Linked DNA regions of Homo sapiens: region 1 is linked to region 2. Evidence: fine-mapped expression QTL. A gene starts in region 2. The other region holds a variant in brackets. All regions are shown on one strand. Distances are from middle to middle. Region 1 overlaps MEI1 (meiotic double-stranded break formation protein 1). Region 2 holds the start of CCDC134 (coiled-coil domain containing 134).

What was found.
Region 1: its variant is fine-mapped to the expression of CCDC134 in monocytes (Quach 2016, PIP 0.95).

The regions. Positions count from the first base shown.
Region 1 is chr22:41,771,221-41,776,593 of GRCh38, reverse strand. MEI1 (meiotic double-stranded break formation protein 1) reads right to left here. Exons shown (of 31, transcript NM_152513.4): 21 at 327-492. Among named protein-coding and RNA genes, the nearest start is that of CCDC134, 27 kb to the left of the region's middle. The variant TTA/A (reference allele first, on the strand shown) is at 3,032.
Region 2 is chr22:41,798,235-41,803,607 of GRCh38, reverse strand. CCDC134 (coiled-coil domain containing 134) reads right to left here and starts at 2,929. Exons shown (of 7, transcript NM_024821.5): 1 at 2,842-2,929. It overlaps MEI1 (meiotic double-stranded break formation protein 1), which reads right to left. Exons shown (of 31, transcript NM_152513.4): 31 at 4,154-4,354. The coding sequence ends at 4,309. RefSeq lists silencers at 2,907-2,966, 3,557-3,646 and enhancers at 3,117-3,196, 3,267-3,346, 3,122-4,108.

The sequences.
Region 1 (5,373 bases), 27 kb after region 2:
AGATTTCTCACTTTCTTCTTCCCACAGGGGGCTGCCATGCTTGTGACAAACAACACTGAGCACATGCTGCACAGGGTGGGGATATGCATGCACACATCAAACACATCCACTCATGTTAAACACACACACAGCAAACCAAGCATGTTGTACGCCCACTCTGCAGTGAGAGAAAGGAGGTGAAGTTTAGCTTGATGCCACAATGGCCTGGCTTTCTTTTTCAGATAAAACCCTGATTCTCTCTCCTGGAGCAGACCTAACAAGGGTAGAGATGCCCATTCTCGACTGGCTTTCAGGTCAAAGTGTGCCCACAGCACCTGCAGACTGACCTCCTGATGGGGATGCCCCATGCTCCACTAGCAGACGCTGCAGGATCAGCAGGAAGTGGCCTCGGATAAGACCGCCCACTTGGATATCCTCATTCCTCCTCAGGAAGGTCCTCAGGCTAATCAGTACCTTGTGAGCTGTGTCCACTGGGCTGGAATAGATGAGGTCCTGAGCAGGAGAGAAGAAAGCCAGAGATCAGAGGGTACTGCAGTTGGGGAAAAGTGACAATGAGGAATAGAGGGGCAGGAAAAGGGCCCATAATTATGATGTCACAAAAACTGGGTAATCTGTCACTTACTCAGCACCTATTATGTACCAAAGGCTCTTCTAGGTGCACTGACGCCTCAAAACCATCCCTTAGAATAGGTCCATCCTAGGCCGTGCATGGTGGCTCACGCATGTAATCCCAGCACTTTGGGAGGCCAAGGCGGGTGGATCACGAGGTCAGGAGATTGAGACCATCCTGGCTAACACGGTGAAACCCCGTCTTTACTAAAAATACAAAAAAATTAGCTGGGCGTGGTGGCAAGTGCCTGTAGTCCCAGCTACTCCGGAGGCTGAGACAGGAGGATGGCATGAACCCGGGAGGCGGGGCTTGCAGTGAGCCGAGATCGCACTACTGCACTCTAGACTGGGTGACAGAGCAAAACTCTGTCTCAAAAAAAAAAAAAAAAAGAATAGGTCCATCCTATTAAATCCATCCTAAACAGGAGAAAACAGGCTCAGAGAGATTACATGACTTGCTAAAGGTCATATAAGCCAGTGGCACAGACAGAATTTGAATGCAAGTCTCCTAACTCCAAGCCCAAAGCTCTATTTTCCAGGATGCCTCCCTCCTGCAAATGGTAGGATTAGGGTCAAGAGGTTGTTTTCAAGACAGGGAACCTGAGTGTGCCTTAAAGAAGAGAAGAAGGAAAGAGAAATGATGTCACTGGGCAGGCAGAGGATAAATTAGGACAGATTCAGTGCACAGAAAGGCAAGTGAGGACCAGGTCAGGCCCGTTCTCTACCAAGGCATCTGGTTATCTCTGCCCCAAGCTATAAAGGTCTTAGGCTCGGAAGATGGGAAGATGCTTTTTATTTTGCTTTCAGAGTTATTTTAGTGAGTATATGTTAAAGACAAAGCCAGTCAGAAAGCTGCACCAGAGGCTACCCTACTGATAGCTCCTGGCACCTGCTAGCTCAAAGAAGCCAATTCCTTTGGACAGGCTAATGCGCTGGGCCAGTTAGGACTGAGGGTTATGAATCCAAGGTCACACAGACTCCCTCTCCAGGGAGGACAGCTACTGACACACAGAGAGATATGGCTACAATGCATCTGGCCAGACAAACCCAGGTGTGCTGATCACTGGGCAGAAGGAGAGGGATGGGGTCACAGGGATGTCTAAGTTTGGCTCTCAGAAACCTCCGCAGTTGCTGGAAAAACAACTATATATCAATAACAACCACTCAGGGCCTAATAATGTCAGGTACTATGTTGTGTTTATACAGTAGCTGTATATTTGTTTATACATTATTTATACCTCTACAATAACTCTTCCATATAGGTGTCACCCCAATTTTTCAAATGAGAAAACTGGGGCAGGTTAATCAGTTTGCATATCAAGAAAGTAATAAAGTTGTAAATTAAACTGCACTGTGAGTTAATGAAGGGAAGGGATGAGGTCTACTTCATCTTTGTCACCTTGTAGAGACTCAGAAAACATCTCTGAAAAGAAAAAGGTCACAGAATGGGAGGGCTAGAGAGAATCTAGATAATTTTTTCCAATACCTTTACTTTACAGAGTATGAGGCTGAAGCCCGACGGGAAGGGAGGGGCATGATTTGCCCAAGGTCATAGATCCCAGAGTCAAACCAGTTTCCTGGTCTTGTGCCTTCACCAACACATCACTGCCCCACTGCCACAGAGGTGGTCCCTCAGAAGTCTGAGTTAATGAATGTTAAAGGTATAAAAGGAAGGGGCTACTCAGCTTTGTGTGGCTATGGTGAATGCTGGAGGAAGAGGAACGTGAGGACCCCACCATATGGATCAGTGGGAAGGCTCTGGGCAAAACTATGACCCAATCTGTAGTCTCTGCTGTCCAGAACTCTCTGGGTCTTGACAGACCAGCGTAACTTGGCCAAAGAGGAAACAAACAGAGTTTCTGTGATGTCATTGTCCCTTCACATCTAAAAAACCTACATGAAAGACCACCCATTGATAAGAGTGGCAATTAACAGCTTTGTTTTCAGCTGTTAATTACCCATATAAAAAACAGAAATTGGTATCAACACAAAATTTTTAGACTCTTTTTCCTTCCTCTGGCTAGAAGCTGGGGAGAAATGGTAAGAATTATATATATGAACAGACAATAAAGTTGTTCCTTGCTGTTCTTTTGTTTTGTTTTGTGTTTTTGAGACGAAGTCTAGCTCTGTCGCCCAGGCTGGAGTGCAGTGGCTCGATCTTGGCTCACTGCAACCTCCGCCTCCTGGGTTCAAGCGATTCTTCTGTCTCAGCCTCCTGAGTGGCTGGGACTACAGGCACGTGCCACCATGCCCGGCTAATTTTTTGTATTTTTAGTAGAGACAGGGTTTCACCATGTTGACCAGGCTGGTCTCGAACTCCTGACCTTGTGACCCACCCGCCTCAGCCTCCCAAAGCGCTGGGATTACAGGCGTGAGCCACCGCGCCCGGCCTCCTTGCTGTTCTTTTTTTTTTTTTTTTTTT[TTA/A]CCATTGATGTCTCTAGGATCTAAGTTAGTGAAAAACTTACTCACTTTGGGCTCTAGTCATAGCCATGACCCTTATTAACTATATGACCTTGGGCAATTCAATTAGCTTCTCTGAGATGAACTTTATCTGGTTCAGAGGCAGTCAATGATTAGTGAATGACAGCCCACTATGTGAAGCAAACCAAGAGTGTTCCTACATACTATCTCATCTACCCTCATGTTTTCTCCATTTTCTGTGGGAGAAAACTGAAGTTCAGATTAGCCTCTATCTTCCTAGTCCTCTATGCAACAACTCATCTTGAAGGCAGCTCCTTTCTGTTAAGCTCTATGCCAAGTGAAACACAAGACTCCTCTCTGCCCTGACCTCCACCACCTCCAGAAAGGAGAGGTGATAAGGATGGTGCACATTCAAGGACAAGGACTGGGTCACCAGGATAAATGGTGGGGCATCCACTCCAGCTTCCCTGGGATGTAGACTCTAAGTATTTGGTCTCCTGAGATTCAATTTCTGTTTGGTTTGCTTCTTTTAATATTTACATCCTGTGAAGTTAGTGGCCTAGCACAGCCTTCAGTTAGTGAGGGACCTCTCCATTCTAGGAAGACCCAGGCTGAGAAAGGGAATTTGGGAGAGGAGATAATGAGCTCCATTTTAGGCAGAAATGTCAAATAGATGGTTGACTTCATGGGTATGAGCTCAGGAGAGAGGTCAGGGGTGGTGCAGGGATTTGAGTCATCACCATACAGCCAGGAGGCAAACAAAGCCATGGGTGTGAATGAGATAACCCAGGAAGAATAAACAGACTGAGTAAAAAGAGAGCCTCAGACAGAACAACTGATAGATAGGGAGTCAAATCTGGGTTTTAATATTTTGATTTCCAACTCTTGTGACCATGGGCAAATCTCTCTAAGCCTATGTTTCATGTATTTAAAAAGAAAAAATGGCAGGTACAGTCGTTTATGCCTATAATCCCAACACTTTGGGAGGCCATGGTGGGAGGATCGCTGGAGCCCAGGAATTTGAGACCAGCTTGGGCAACATGATAAAACACTGTCTCTACAAAAAATATAAAAATTAGCCAGACACAGTAGCACATGCTTGTAGTTCCAGCTACTTGGTCTTGAACTCCTGACCTCAGGTGATTCACCTGGCTCGGCCTCCCAAAGTACTGGGATTATAGGCATGAGCTGCCACGCCCAGCCAATTCTAGTTACTTGGGAGGCTAAGGCAGGAGGATCACTTGAGCCCAGAAGATTGACGCTGCAGTGAGCCATGATCCTGCCACTGCACTCTAGCCTGGGCAACAGAGCAAGAAAAAAGAAAAAAAATAAAAATAAATAAGATATAGTCATGCTGTATCTTTTCTATGTTTAGATATACAAATGTCACTGTGTTACATTTGTCTACAATATTCAGTACAGTAACATGCTGTACAGGTTTGTAGCCTAGGAGTAACAGGTCATCCCATATACCTAGGTGTGTAGTAGGCTAGACCATCTAGATGTCTGTAAGTATACTCCATGATGTTGGTATGACAAAATCACCTAACACTGTGTTTCTAAAAATGTATCCCCATCATTAAGCAATGCATGACTGTATTGTCACTACTATCCCTGGACAGACTTAGATTGGTCTAGACCCATAATTCAATGGGTCATAATTTATAAGTACCTACTATGTGTGAAGAACTGACCCCGAATATTTCATCTGGTGAAGAAAACCTAGTATCTTAGTTCTGTCCCCTGCTACTCTCCTTGGTATCTAATTTGTTGTTCAATTTGCCTTCTTGAGTGGAAGGAAAAAAAGTGGAGTTAAAGCCAGCCACTAGGCAGTTTACCTTATCTAATCTAATTAGCCCATCTAATTCCTGATGGGAATTTCAGTAACGTACTTCACCAAAAAGTATTGACAGCCTGGGCAACCTGGTGAAACCCCATCTCTTAAAAAAAAAAGTAAAAAATTAGTTGGGTGTGGTGGCGTGCACCTGTAGTCCCAGCTACTCGGGAGGCTGAGGCAGGAGAATTGCGTGAACCCGGGAGGTGGAGGTTGCAGTGAGCCCAGATCATGCCACGGCACTGCACCCTGGGCAACAGTGTGAGACTGTGTCTCCAGAAAAAAAAGTACTGGGGCATCTGACAATTCTAGGTATGCCTGAGCAAGTAATGTACATATAATATTATCATGTAAGTCATGGCAAAAAAGAGGAGGAGTCCCTCTGCCATCAGAAATGTCCATCTACATGCCCCATGGGCTTCCTTTAACATTAAACCTGTGTCAGCAGAATCTGCTTGAGAGATGACAGGGAGGTGAGAGGGGATGGTGACTAAGATCTGCATTTCATA
Region 2 (5,373 bases):
TTTGTAGAGACGAGGTTTCATGATCTTGGCCAGGCTGGTCTCGAACTCCTGGGTTCAAGCAATCTGGCCATCTTGGCCTCCCAAAGTGCCAGGATTACAGGGGTGAGCTATCGTGCCCAGCCCTATTTTCTTTTTAAACTTTATACCTATTACTTTTTAAATTTTTGTTGAAGTATCACTCCTGACAGAATAATGCTGGCCCAGAAGTTTGCAATGACAGCAAATGCCTATGGAACAGCCAAAATTGAACTTAACAATGAACTCCAGGTAGACATACCTTGAGAGCCACTCCTTCCAAACCTCCCTTGCTGCTCAAATGTGGCTAAAAGGTATTTGGGGTTTTTTGAGGCAGGGTCTCGCTCTGTCACCCACGCTGGAGTGCAGCGGTACAATCATAGCTCCCTATAACCTGAAACTCCTGGGCTTAAGTGATCCTCTACCCAACTGACTCCCGCACACTCCCCAACCAATGCCCAGATAACTTTTTTTTTTTGAGACGGAGTTTCGCTCTTGTTGCCCAGGCTGGAGTGCAATGGTGCGATCTCGGCTCACCGCAACCTCCACTTCCCAGGTTCAAGCGATTCTCCTGCCTCAGCCTCCCTAGTAGCTGGGATTACAGGCATGTGCCACCACGCCCGGCTAATTTTTGTATTTTATTTTATTTATTTTTTATTTTTTTATTTTTTATTTTTTTGAGACAGAGTCTTGCTCTGTCGCCCAGGCTGGAGTGCAGTGGTGCGATCTCGGTTCACTGCAAGCTCTGCCTCCTGGGTTCACGCCATTCTCCTGCCTCAGCCTCCCAAGTAGCTGGGACTACAGGCACCTGCCACCACGCCCGGCTAATTTTTTGTATTTTTAGTTGAGATGGGGTTTCACCGTGTTAGCCAGGATGGTCTCGATCTCCTCACCTCATGATCCGCCTGCCTCGGCCTCCCAAAGCGCTGGGATTACAGGTGTGAGCCACCGCGCCCGGATGTTATTTATATATATTTTTGTATTTTAGTAGAGACGGGTTTCTTCATGTTGGTCAGGCTGGTCTCGAACTCTCAACCTCAGGTGATCCGCCCGCCTTGGCGGTTGCCCAGGCTGGTCTTGAACTTCTGGACTCAAGTGATACTCCCTCCTTGACCTCCCAAAGTACTGGGATTACAGACGTGAGCCCCTGCTCCCAACCACTACAAGGGTTTTGACACTGACTCCTAGTCACCAGTCTCCAACTGGAGACTCCTAGTCTCCAACATGGCAAGAGACCAACAACCCAAGATAGGTCCGTCCCAGCACTGAGGGACCTAACTACAGGATGACTGATCAGTAAAGTTTTTGGAGAAAGATCTTGACCAAAAGGGGGAAATATGAAAGTTGTTAGAATCAAAACAGAGTCGTTTGTGTTAAAAACTCTGACAAATTTAAAGCATGATTCTCCAATGGGAAAAAACAAGAACAACAACTCTGACAAATAAAACCGAGGAAGGTTGTGAAAAGAGGGTTCTTATGCACAAATGACTGATAACAAGATCACAAAAAATGCAAAAACCACAACCCTGCACAAAGGCCACTGCAAACTTACACAGAAAAATCTTTCTGTGAGGACATCTGCCCTGCAACTGCCTGTCCAACCTCAGACTAGCACCACTCTTGCTATTCATCCTTGTAGCCAAGGATAACTATCTCAAAATAATCATGTAATCCTCATTTTTCCTTTTCAAAACCTTTGTCTTCCTTTACCTCCCCAAATACGTACACAGGTTACTATGGCACACATATTGTCACTACAATGTCTATTCCCAAGTAAACATCATTTTTTTAGAGTCTCTCACTCTGCTATTTAGGTTGACAGTACCTACCACACTCTAGGCACTGTTCTAGAGGCGGGAATACAGCAATAAATAAGCAAAAATCTCTGCACTCATGGTACTTGTCTCTAGTAGGGATAAGAGTTGATCAATAAACTTGTAAAATAAGCACAGAGGGATGAGAGGGTGTCGGTCAGGTACAAGATTACATAAAGTGGTCAGGAGAGGTCTCACACTCAGATTACAACTCCCCAATGTTACCAATGTGAAATCAAGGCACAGAAAAATGAGGTGACTGCCCAAAGTCACACAGCTATTCCCAGGCTGAACCAAGTGTCTGTTTGGCTCTAAGTCCAGTGCTCTGTCTTCTGACTCTTTGTAAATGAGCACAGGCTACCTGAGATCAGAGCTGGCTACTGAACTACCAGGACACCTGCCCCAGGGGAGAGATGCTCAGTTACAGACAGTGAGGGGCTGCAGAGATCATCCGGAGAACCCCCTACCCCCAAGCAGACGAGATAAGTGAAACCTAGAGAAGGAATAGTCCAAGTTCACCCAGGACCCTCCACATTCCACCTCCTGCTCCAAACTCAAGGGAACCAGAACCAGGCTAGGGCAAAACTTTAGGGGCCAAGGAGAATACCAGACAGCTGGCAATGACTGAAGCAGGTAGTGGGAAAGAAAAGCCAGAACAGCAGCCTGCGGGACAGGTCCTGCTTTCTCTACTGTTAAACTCACTTTTTCAGCCTCTCAATCCCGATCCTGCCGTATGCGTCACCCGGAGCTCCTCCTGGCTCAGCATGAGGCTCTGAACTCCTGCAGAGGTACCAGGTAGTGGCGGGCCTTGAGCCAGCTACCGGGGTCGGGGGCCCAGGTGGTTGACCCCGAGCCTTCGGAGCTCCCGGAGGAGGGAGCGAGCCTTCTCAAGGAACAGAGGCGTCCAGGTCCACGAAACTCCCTCCCCACCACCTGCAGCCGGTTCGAGGCCCTCGGTTCTCTCATTATCCTTCCCGGGAACCTGCAGCCCGCGGCCCCTACAGCCACCTACCTGGCCAGTCGGTGCAGGAAGGGCAGGTGGCCGAGTCCTGTGCGAGCAGCTAGGCTCGAAGGTCCAACAGGCTAACAGCAAAGCAACTGAAAGCGGGAGCAAACGGCTAGCAACCGAGCGCAGACCGCCGAGCTCCGTCCCGCCCACCGCGCTGCTCCCGGCCAATGAGCGCGAGCCGCCACTGCGGGGCTCCGCTAGCCTCACTTCCGGCCCCGCTCCACCGCCCCTGCCTGCCCCTCCAGGCTCTGGCGTGCCTCCAGCGCGCTGTGGGCACCATCCTCGTCCTGTCCCTCCTGCGGGCCCTGGGTACGTGGCCCTGGATTTAGCTTGTGTTGGAGGAAGTTAAATCTGTGGGTGGGGTCTGTGCCCAATTTAAGGCGTGAATCAGCAAACTGGGGTCCCAGCTCCTGTCGGCCGGGCGACCTTCTGCGCGCCCTCCCTGAAACTGTGTCGTCGTCTGTGGCCGAGTTTTTAAACTTTAGATCGCAACGTGAGTTTAGTGGGCGGTGACTAGCACTTTTGTTCTTCTTTAAGGACCTCAGAGACTCAGTGCAGGATTCGGGCATCCCCTCCTTGCCCCTCCGGTCCACCAACTAATAAGCCAAGTGCGGCGGGGGCTTCCTCGTCCGTTCGTTAGGCCGAGTGCAGCCCCACTTTTGCGCAGGATCAGGACAGTCAGACCCGAGAAGGCAGCGTGGCGTGGCCATCTCCGGGCCCGGGGCCCCTGCCGGGCGGGAAGGGAGCTGGAGGCCCGGTCTGGGCTGAGCTCCCCAGAACAGGCGCAGGGCAGGCACTGTCGAGCGCAGACCTCATGCCGGGGACCAAGCTGGACATGCATTCCCAGGATCTACCCACGAGGGTGCATAAACACCAGTTCTGATGACGGCTGTACGGGAAGGGACAGAGGTGACCTACTTTAGCCAGACAAGGGCTGAGGCTGGGACAGTTTCGTTCTGATAGGAAAGCTGAGAATTTGACCCTCCTTGCCTGGAAAGTTTACCTCTATCCACCTCCACGTGAGGCGAGGGAGCAGGTCAAGTGCCTCTGGGAGCTGTTGAATCGCAGCAGCCCCAACCCCTAGGCCTTTCTCTGCCCTGCCAGCCCCAGGATGGCCTGACTGGTGTTCTCTGAGTACAGCTGAGGCACCCAGCTGACTCCTTGAATGCTGTTACAAGAACAAATCCTGTCCCGTCCCTCCTTCCCTGAGGAGGCCATCAGTCTCCTTGCTGAAACAATCCCTTATCCAACTGGCTGAGAAACCAGCTCCTGGTAGACAAGGTAGTACAGTGTTTTTGGAGAGCTCGCGCAGGTATGTGAGTGTATCATTTTATTTCCTTATTCTATTTCAACAATAGAGTATATGGCTCCATATGAATAGCTTCAGCTGTCATCCATTTCCCCAACAATTATGCCCTTTGTCTCCAGGTCTCATTCTCTCTCCACTTCTGGGCCTTCAAGTCCTGAGGATCAGTTTCTGATGTGGGACAGGGATACAGCCACCCCTCCCAGGCAGCTGGCAGCAAAACATGAGAGGAAAACAGCAGAGAAGTGGGGCCAACCATGGGGGCATCACACTTCCAGAGCCCAAAACAGTCAAGAATGGTCAGGCAAGAACAGAAGTGCTCCTGAGAATAGTGGGATGGATTCTGAAATTGGGTCCTGAACACCTGGGCTAGGTAGTTGCTATTCAACAGGGAACTATTGCACGGAAGGGGCAAGGAAGAGAGCCAGGGAGGCAGCCAGAGGGGTGCAGAGGAAGCAAACTACCCTCACACACACCTCTGGACTGCAGTATCTCTGGACTGCAGTGTCTCTGGGTGCAACCAGCCACCTACCAGAGGGTCTCTGACCACTGCCACAGCCCCAAGCTTGCTTTTTTTTTTTTTTTTTGAGACATAGTCTCACTCTGCCACCCAGGCTGGAGTGTGCAGTGGCACAATCTCGGCTCTCTGGTCACTGCAATCTCCACCTCCCAGGTTCAAGTGATTGTCCTGCCTCATCCTCCCAAGTAGCTTGGATTACAGGCATGCACCACCATGCCCGGCTAATTTTTGTATTTTTAGTAGAGATGGGGTTTTACCATGTAGGCCAGGCTCGTCTCAGAACTCCTGACCTCAAGTGATCCACTCACCTTGGCTGGGATTACAGTGTGAGCCACTGCGCCCGGCCCCCAAGCTTTCTTTTTTTTTGAGACGGAGTCTTGGTCTGTTGCCCAGGCTGGAGTACAGTGGCGCGATCTTGGCTCACTGCAGCCTCTGCCTCCCAGGTTCCAGTGATTCTCCTGCCTCAGCCTCCTGGGTAGCTGGGATTACAGGCTCATGCTACCACGCCCAGCTAATTTTTGTATTTTTTAGTAGAGATGGGGTTTCACCATGTTGGCCAGGCTGGTCTCAAACTCCTGAGCTCAGGTGATCTGCCCACCTTGGCCTCCCAAAGTGCTGGGATTACAGGCGTGAGCCACTGCACCCGGCCATCCAAGCTTTCTTAAGAACATGGAAGTCACACAGACACACACACATTGTGTGTGTGTGT